Regions from separate parts of the Homo sapiens genome. Here region 1 is linked to region 2. A link means that fine-mapping ties the variant in region 2 to the plasma level of a protein whose gene starts in the linked region. Region 2 holds a variant in brackets. A gene starts in the other region. All regions are shown on their forward strands.

Region 1 (4,376 bases), not on the chromosome of region 2:
GGAATTTGCAGGCCGAAGAGGGATCCTGGAGAGTGGGGGACTCACCTCAACAGCACTCTCTAAGGGGTAAGGAGCCCCTGGCATCAGGAGCTACCAGAGCACCTGCTACGTGCCAGTCATGGCTCCCTGTGGGCCTCAAGTCTGCAGGCTCTGGGGTAAGGGGTGGGGGTGGTGTGGAAGTGTGGCTGGCCAGGGGAGCTGGGGCCTGGAGGGTCACACACCTGCAGGAGGTCACAGAGCCAGGGGATGGCTGGCCCCACAGACCCGTCTCCCAGGTGGCCAGCCTGCAGCCTGTGCCGTCCTGCTGAGCCAAGAGAAGACACTGGGGGTGTTTGTGTTGGTCGGCTGTGGGGTCCCTCCCAAGGGAAACCGTTAGTCACCCTGGCGCTGGCTGGATGTGAGGCCACAAACGCCAGGAGAGCTCGGGGACTGTGCCAAGGGGTGCGAGGCCTGGCGGTCACCAGAAGAGAGAGGAAGGGGATGGCAGAGGCACCCAGAGCGAGTGTAATCCGGTCATGTGAGAGGGACTGGGTGTGTGTGTGCCTGTGTGTGTGTGTGTGTGTGTGTGTGTGTGTGTGCTGGGTGACAGGTGCCACCATGTCTGTGATTCAGCACAGCGACCCCAGGGGGCAGTGTGGGCCTGGGTTAGGGTTAGGGTTAGTCCTGGTTCCACACCGCAGGTGGCCCTGTGACTAGGAGCAGCCACCTTGCATCCCAGTTGCCCCAGCAGGAGAATGAGATGAATAAGACTTGCCTGCCCGAGGGTCCCGGGGAGAGAAACTTAAACAACCCGGCAGAGGAGAGAACCCGACACTCAGGAGCGCTGGCATCCCAGCCTTGCCTACTGGAGAGGTGACTTGGTCCCCGAACCTCAGTTCTTCCACCTGTGAAATGCAGATCATAAAGGTGGATCTGGCCTCACAGCTCTGGGCCCGTAGGACAAGCTGGACAGAGGGCAGACGGTATTATCGCTTTCACTACTATTACTGGTGGCTTTCCTTCCCAGCCTTTCTGGTGGGTGGTCAGACACAGGGCAGAACTTTCTCATGAAGGCAGCTGAAGGAACTCACAAGTTTCTTCCAGCAGGGAGGACAGAGGGAAGGAGAAGTGTCTTCCCGGCACTGCTGTGGGCCCAGGACATCTGCTGCATGGAGGCAGGGGCATGGATGAAAAGACACAGATGACCTGATGGAATGGTGCCCCAGCTTCCTCCTCCTCCCCTTTTTGGAGGTGCCTCTGTTTGCCGAGGATGGGCTCTGGGGAAGCTGGTGTGCAGAGGCTAGGTGCCCAGCCTTGCTTTAGGAAAGCCTCACAAAGTCTGGGGCCCGCCGGGAGTTTCCCAGGGGGGCTCTGCTGCTCCACCCACTCTCGCTCCCCTCTGTGCCCTGACTCAGCAGGAACAGAGGCTTGAGCTCCAGGCCTGGCCTGCCAGGGGCTGCCAAGTTGGTGCTGGACATCTGCAGAATCCCTGAGCCTCTCTGCCCTGGCCCTGGCTGCTCTAGCCATCTGGTCAGCAGGCCACGGGCACATCTGTCTCCTCCCTGGAGCCCTTGGTTCATTCTCGCTGGGTCTCCCTGCGTCCCTCCACCTGCTTAGGCCCCTGCATCTCGGGAGCTTTCTGAGGCTCGTGACCTGGGGCACGGTCGTCCCGGAAGTTCAGCCTTTCCCTCCGTACAACGGAGCCATCAGACGGGACACCTCATACATCCCAGACCCCATTCTCAGGAGCCCCAGGGACAGGGCCCGCTCTGGAGGCAGAAGCCGGACAGGCGGGGCTGGGGCTTTGCCACCGCCAGCCTCCCCGGTAACCTCAGGCCAGCGGCTGCTCCGTCTGGACACCCGACATGTGGCCCCCAGTTCTGGACCCGGGAAGAAGGCCTCCCTGCTCGCCGCTCCTGGGCCGCCGCCGCCGGCAGCAGCCAACAGGCAGCTGGGCCGGCCTGGCCGGGCTCCAGAGGCGCAGAGCGGGTTAAAGTGTGCGCCAGGCCGGCCGGCGCGGGCGGGGGAGCGGCCTGGTGGGAAGTGTGAGTGTTCCTCCCCGTCTGCCTGACAGCTATAAAGGCGGCCGCCGGCGCAGAGCCGCCACTGGGCTGCGCCCCTCCCGGGAACCCCCTCTCTTGGATGCTCTTTGAAGTGGGAGAGGGAGGCGGCGCGGGGGAGGAGGGGAAGGGGAGAGGGAGGCCGGGCCGCAGCCTCTGCACTCACGCCGCCCCCGCACGCACAGCGCACCTGGCGCCGTCTGCCCTCCGCAGCGCTCGCCCCTTTCTCTGGGAGGACAACCTGCTGACCCGAAGCCAGGTAGGCCACCTCGTCCCCGTCCCCCTCACGTTGCAGCGTCCACCAGGCCAGCCCACTGCTCAGAGTGGGGCTGGGGGTAGGAGCACCCCGCGCCCTCTGGAGCCGTTACATAACGTGGGGAGGCTTGTGGGGAGGGGTCGGGCCGCAGAGCACGGGGCAGGGTGGCCTCCCAGCACCTAGCCTTGTGCGCCCGGAGCTCTGTGTGCACGGCAGACCTCTCTGCTGCCGCCAGCCGCTGCTTTTGGACCCCAGGGAGGGATGGATCCCCGTGAGCGAGGCCTGGCCAGAAGCCAGTGGTGTCTGGAAGCCTTAATGAAAAAAGCAAGTGTGAGGCCGGCTGGCACCTGTCTTCAGCCGGCAGGCAGAGGCTGGGGCACCCGTTAGCCAATGGCACAGTGGAGGGGGCTCCTGTGGGTGTGAGGCTGAGAGTGCAGATGGAGGTCTGCAGGGGAGGGAGGTGGGGGGCAGGCGGCGGGGGCAGGGGAGGTCAGACTCAGGCTCCCCACTCCAGGGTGCACTGCTGCGTCGTCCGGGCTGCAGTGGTGTCCTTGGAGTGGCCCCTGAAAATCTGCAGGTGCCGGGCCTGCAAGGAAACTCTTCAAGTTGGATGGAGGCTGCTGAGGAGGGAGGGGCAGAGCCCGAGTTGGCCTCTGGCCTGGCAGGGGTGAGGGGTGACCTCCATGCCTTCTTCCCCTGGAATTGGCCAGGCGTGGGGGTCGAGTCCCTGAGTTTGCTAGTGTGCTACCTTGCTGTGTGGCTTTGAGCAGGTTGGCTCCCCTCTCTGGGCTCCAGGTTATGAGTGCAGGCTGCGTGGTTTCTGAAATCCCTTCTCTAACTCGCTGGCAAGTGACCCTCAGCACCTGAGCAAGGCCTGGACAGAGGTCATGGTGGATCTCTGGTCTTCCCTTCCACAGGGCAGGGTCGACGCTGAGGAGGGGGTGGGGAGAGCTGAGGGCCTGGAGGCTGGACAGTCCCTTCCAATGGGCTTGCTTTGACCCCTGGCAGGTGTTTTGAGCCAAGGGTGCTGGCTGTTGGGAGGAAGTCAGCCTTGTGGCCCTGGACTGCTGACATGCTGGCACAAACTGCACCTCCTCCTGCCCTGCCCCTCCCCCAATTCCATCTTCTCTCCGGGGATCGGGAGGCGGCATAGGTACCTGGGTTCTGCCTCACCTGAGTGCCGGCTGTTGCTGGATGCTGACTGTGGAGCTGCTGGTCTAGGGCGAGGCTGCACATTCCCCCGGGACCTGGCCAAGCCCATCCCCATGCACTGACCCTAGCAGCCAGTGGCAGAGGCCATTCTCCTGCGAGGCCAGCAAGAGCTGAGCCAGTTAAAATCCCAAGGTGCTCCTGCCAAGGCGCTGGACTGAGCCCAGGCCCATCCCTTCGAACCAGAGCCTTTCCCCCCGCCTGGGTCCCCAGCCCCCTCAGCCGAGGCTGGCTGTCTCCACAGCCCTTCTCTAGGGGGCTTGAGGACTTGGAGGCAAAGCATGGCATGCTTCCCTGCATGCCCTTGGATCAAGGGTGGCACAGGCTTAGCACGCACACCGCCGCTGGGTGTCTTGCCTGAAGCAGGCATTACTAATCATTCACCAAGCTCCTTCTTGCTAAGCCTAGACTGAGGCGGGGGGTTCATCCTTCCCAACAGGGTCTGCCAGACAACCACGACCAACTAGTCCCAGATAACCTTGAGGCCTGGGCACTGGCTGGGCCCCGAGGGCTCTTCCCAAAGCGTACCCTGGTCATCTGGAAGAGGATCGGAGCTGGCCTGGTGGTGACAGTGGCCTTGCTTCCTAGGATGGATGGCAGATGGCAATGTTCCTGCTGGGCCTGGTTCCTGCTGGTTCTGGCAGTTGTAGCTGGGGACACAGTGTCAACCGGGTCCACGGTGAGTGGGGTGTTGTGGTCTGAGGGCCCATGCCAGTCCCCTACCCAGGTGCTGTGATCACTCTCAGATGGACTGGCTTGGAGGGAGCCGTGTGGGCACGTGCCCCAGGTCCCAGAACCCATCTTGGCTCCTAGAAACTTCTGCCCAGAGCCAGTCAGATCAGCCTCTGAACTGGGGCCCTGGCTACTGTGGA
Region 2 (4,305 bases):
AATTAGAGAAAAGAATACAAGAGCAGAGACAGAGATCCTGGGAGAGAAGTTCTGAGACAGAGACAGGGACACAGGAAGAGACTGAGACAGAAATGTAAAGTAAGGGGGAGAGATAGACAGGGGTCCAGGGAAGAGAATGGGACAGACAATGAGAATAGATCAGAATTTAGTAGATGTTAGAAGTGGCATTTCAGATTGGTAGGCTGAGGACACAGTACACAGTGCTGTGATAATTGGTCATACCTAAGGAACAAAACATGAGATCCCTACCTCATACCATATACAGAGGCATCAGGGGAAACCAAAAGGAGTATGTACATGACCTTGGGGACACAGAAGCCTTCTGAACAAGACACACGGTGAAAACCATGAAGGAAAAAAAAGATAGCTTTTTGACCATGACATAATTAAAAGCATCCTTGTGACCACAACACCAGAACCAAAGTTAAAAGATGAGAGTGAATGAAGCAGAGTGAGTTAAGTTGCCGTTAGGGAGAAGGCACAAGTTATAGAGAGGTTCACAGAGAAAGAGAGAGAGGCTGGGCATGATGGCTTATGCCTGTAATCCCAGCACTTTGGGAGGTCAAGGTGGGTAGATTACTTGAGCTCATGAGTTCAAGACCAGCCTGGGCAACATGGCGAAATGCTGTCTCTACAAAAAATACAAAAATTAGCTGGGTGTGGTGGCGCCCTAGCTACTCAGAAGGCTGAGGTGGGAGAATTGCTTGAGCCTGGGAGGTGGAAGTTGTGTGAGCTGAGATCCCACCACTAAGCTCTAGCCTGGGCGATAAAGCCAGATCTTGTCTCAAAAAAAAAAAAAAAAAACACAGATGTGGAAATGAGGATGAAAACAGAAGGAAGATGGGCCGGGCACAGTCACTCAAGCCGGTGATCCCAGCACTTTGGGAGGGCGAGGTGGGGGTGGACCTGAGGTCAGGAGTTCCAGAGCAGCCTGGCCAACATGGTGAAACCCCATCTCTACTAAAAATACAAAAAAATTAGCCACATGTGGTGGCAGGCAACTGTAATCTCAGTTACTTGGGAGGCTGAGGGAGGAGAATTACATGAATCTGGGAGGTGGAGGTTGCCAAAAAAAAAAAAAAAAGAAGAAAGATGAATGAGGTGGGGGTAGGTGACAGAAACTGAAAAAAGCAGGAAAGATAGAAAGATGGAGATAAAGGAAGAGATGGAGAGAGATCCAGAGCCGGGGTGGGTGATAATCCAAGTTGGGGAGAAGGAGGGATAGAAACTGAATCTGCTAGAGGCTGGGCACAGTGGCTCAGACCTGTAATCCCAGCACTTTGGGAGGCCGAGGCAGGCAAATCACTTGAGATAAGGAGTTCAAGACCAGCCTGGCCAACATGGTGAAACCCCGGCTCTACTAAAAATACAAAAAAAATTAGCCAGGCACTGTGGCAGGTGCCTATAATCCCAGCTACTCAGGAGGCTGAGGCAGGAGAATCACTTGAACCCGGGAGGCGGAGGTTGCAGTTAGAGTTAATCGAGATCACACCACTACACTCCAGCCTGGGCAACAGAGCGAGACTCCATCTCAAAAAACTGAGTCTGCTAGAGGATGCCACAAACAGCTGGGGGTAAGATTGCTGGCAGGAGTGGGGAAGCTGAGCAGGACAGGGACAGTCACAGCCTATGGTGCTGCAGAGGCCAGGAGTCCGAGCAGTTTCTTTGCCCTGGACTCTGAAGACACGGCTAGGACCAGTGGAGGGGAGGGACCAGGGCAGGTTTAACTGTTATTTGAGGGACAGAGTCACTCGTGCAGAAACAGGCAGCCAGGGGTGATGCAGGGAACTCAAGTTTTGGGGTAGTGGGGAAGCCAGGCCCACCTGAGGGGTTGCTGCATAGAGGAGCACTCGAGAGAGGATGGATCTAGGGCCTTCCACCACCAGGAGGCTTTCCCAGGGATACACGGGCAGATGCCCCACCTGACCTGATCCCTTGCACACACATGCCAAATCCACGTGGATGTACACACATACACGCCCCACAGTGAAGGCGTGTCCACTGCCAGCCAGACTAGGGCCCCACAAACAGGCACACAACCTAGAGACACACAACTTCTGCTGCATTGTCCTGCATGCTGACACCCAGACAGACAGGTGTCTGTGGGCATATGCTGGGCCTCACAGGACATGTGTGTGTACATAGGCCATGTACACGTCCATGGGCAGGAGCTTGTGCATCGTGCCTGGACACAGTTGTACACGAGCTCCAGACCGTCAGAGCCTCAGAGGCCAGGATGTAGCCAGGTCTGCCCATGCACACACATGCTTGGATGCATGAATACATGAATACACAGGAAGATAGAGGCCGGGCCACATACACACACTCAGGTGCCTGCACGAGTAATCACATGCACATGAC[C/T]TCAGGTGCCTGCATGAGTGCTTGCGCACACAGCTTCAGGCACCTGCATGAGTATTCACGTGCATGCCTCAGGCGCCTGCATTATTCACACGCACGCCTCAGGCGCCTGCATGAGTACTCACGCGCACCTCAGGTGCCTGCATGTTTTCCTGTGTTTTTGAATGTGTGCATACACACACTTGGACTGTGTATGCACATCATCCCACAAGCATGATCACACACATACCCACATGGACACTATCTGCTCAGTCGCTCACCCCATGCCCACCCTGTCTCTCCTCTGTGCAGGGGGCGAGTACTTCAGTGATGAGCAGATGCGGTTCCGGGCCCCCCTGCTATATGAGCAGTACATCGGGCAGTATCTCACCCAGGAGGAGCTCAGTGCCCGCACCCCAACCCACCAGCCCCCCAAGCCCGGGTCCCCCGGGAGACCTGCTTGCCCGCTCTCCAACTTGCTGCTCCAGTCCTACGAGGAGCGGGAGCTACAGCAGCGTCTGCTCCAACAGCAGGAGGAGGAGGAGGCCTGCTTGGAGGAAGAGGAAGAGGAGGAGGACAGTGACGAGGAAGGTGAGGGCCAGTAGCAGGAAGACCCCAGATTCCAGACACCCCAGCCCTAGGCCTGTCTGTCTCCACTTCATGGCAGCAGGCTGGGCCCCCAACCTGCAAAAGCCGACATTGCGTCCCTCCCCTGCCCAGCCTGACTCTCTGTGTATGCCCTTCCAACCGCTGCAGCATCCCCATCCCCCACTCTGAGGCACCAAATGAACCCTCGCCTCCAGGTCTGGACAGGCTGTTCCCTCCGCCAGGAATGCCTCTCCTCCCACCCTTCAGGTCTCAGATCCTGACCCGAGGATACAGTCTCCAGAGCACTATATGGTCATGTGTTTTATGCGTGTCCCTGGAGGGCAGGGACCAGGGCCATCTCTGTCACTAGTGTGTTCCCAGAGCCACCCAGCGCAAGGCTGGGCACAGGAGCAGCAGCTCTCTGTGGACTCTGTGCTCAGTGCCTGCCCGAGTGCACCCGCATTCACACCCCCTCTCCTCTCCCTCTGCAGACCAGAGGTCAGGCAAGGACTCGGAGGCCTGGGTTCCCGACTCGGAGGAGAGGCTGATCCTGCGAGAGGAGTTCACCAGCCGCATGCACCAGCGCTTCCTAGATGGCAAGGACGGGGACTTTGACTACAGGTGCTCCTGTGCCTCCACCTCCCCATCCCCCAGCCCAGCATCCCACGGCCTTTGGTCACATGCAGAGCCCTTAACAAGCTGTGGGGGTCTCCCTTTGTGGAGCTACAAGGCCCCAAAACAGTTCCAGGATGTGGGGTTGAACAGCCAAAGGAAGAGGCTGGGTGACCTCGGACTAGCCTTGTCCATCTCAGACCCTCAGTCTCCTCACCTCTAAGGCAGGGGATGGACAGGGATGACATATAGCTCAGTATCAATGAAACCCTGAAACACTTCCCTCCTGGCAATGGCAGAGGCTACTACCCCAAGCCCCCCAAGTCTCCCTAGGAAGCCCAACCTCTTCCGCTTCACCTTGGACCTCCTCATGCTGCAGGAAGTAACCCCTGGCAAAGTTCATGCCCGGCATGGAGGGGCCTGCACTGGCTGCCCCCACAGTTACAGTTGTTCATTTCTCCAGTAGCACCCCAGGGCTGAGACACGTGGGCCACCTGCTTTGGAAAAGGACCCAGGAGAGTGATGTGTCAGTCAAAGATTGGTTTTGTCATTTAAGGTAGCTTTGCCTTGTGGTCCCAAACACTGGGCCCAGCAGCAGAGGACCCTCCTTGGTTTCACATCCAGCCCCGATGACATGTGAAATGTGTGACCACACATAAGCGGACCCTACGTCCGTCCTGAGGTGGGCTCATCAGGAAAGTGGGAATTGTGATTGCCCCTGCCGTGGGGCCCAGCCATGGTCACCAG

Alleles and levels. Alleles are on the strand shown, and positions count from the first base shown. The strength of an association depends on the size of the effect and on how common the allele is.
For the plasma level of the protein whose gene starts at base 2,085 in region 1, allele T in region 2 goes with a higher level than allele C (weak association).

The links. A credible set is the group of variants that fine-mapping cannot tell apart. PIP is the posterior inclusion probability: the model's chance that the variant is causal. Protein levels are from antibody-based Olink assays in UK Biobank. Linkage for the fine-mapping came from a reference panel and not from the study's own genotypes, which makes the PIPs less certain.
Region 1: ADAMTSL2 starts here. The variant in region 2 is the best candidate, but not a certain one, in a credible set for the plasma level of the ADAMTSL2 protein (UK Biobank, PIP 0.52).

Annotation. Positions count from the first base shown.
Region 1 is chr9:133,532,620-133,536,995 of GRCh38, forward strand. ADAMTSL2 (ADAMTS like 2) reads left to right here and starts at 2,085. Exons shown (of 19, transcript NM_014694.4): 1 at 2,085-2,298; 2 at 3,944-4,183. The coding sequence starts at 4,094. RefSeq lists a silencer at 602-691 and enhancers at 950-1,491, 1,492-2,031, 2,032-2,573, 3,114-3,655, 4,196-4,376.
Region 2 is chr19:41,316,904-41,321,208 of GRCh38, forward strand. It overlaps CCDC97 (coiled-coil domain containing 97), which reads left to right. Exons shown (of 5, transcript NM_052848.3): 3 at 2,671-2,949; 4 at 3,438-3,567. Among named protein-coding and RNA genes, the nearest start is that of CCDC97, 8.9 kb to the left of the region's middle. RefSeq lists an enhancer at 3,029-3,766. The variant C/T (reference allele first, on the strand shown) is at 2,383.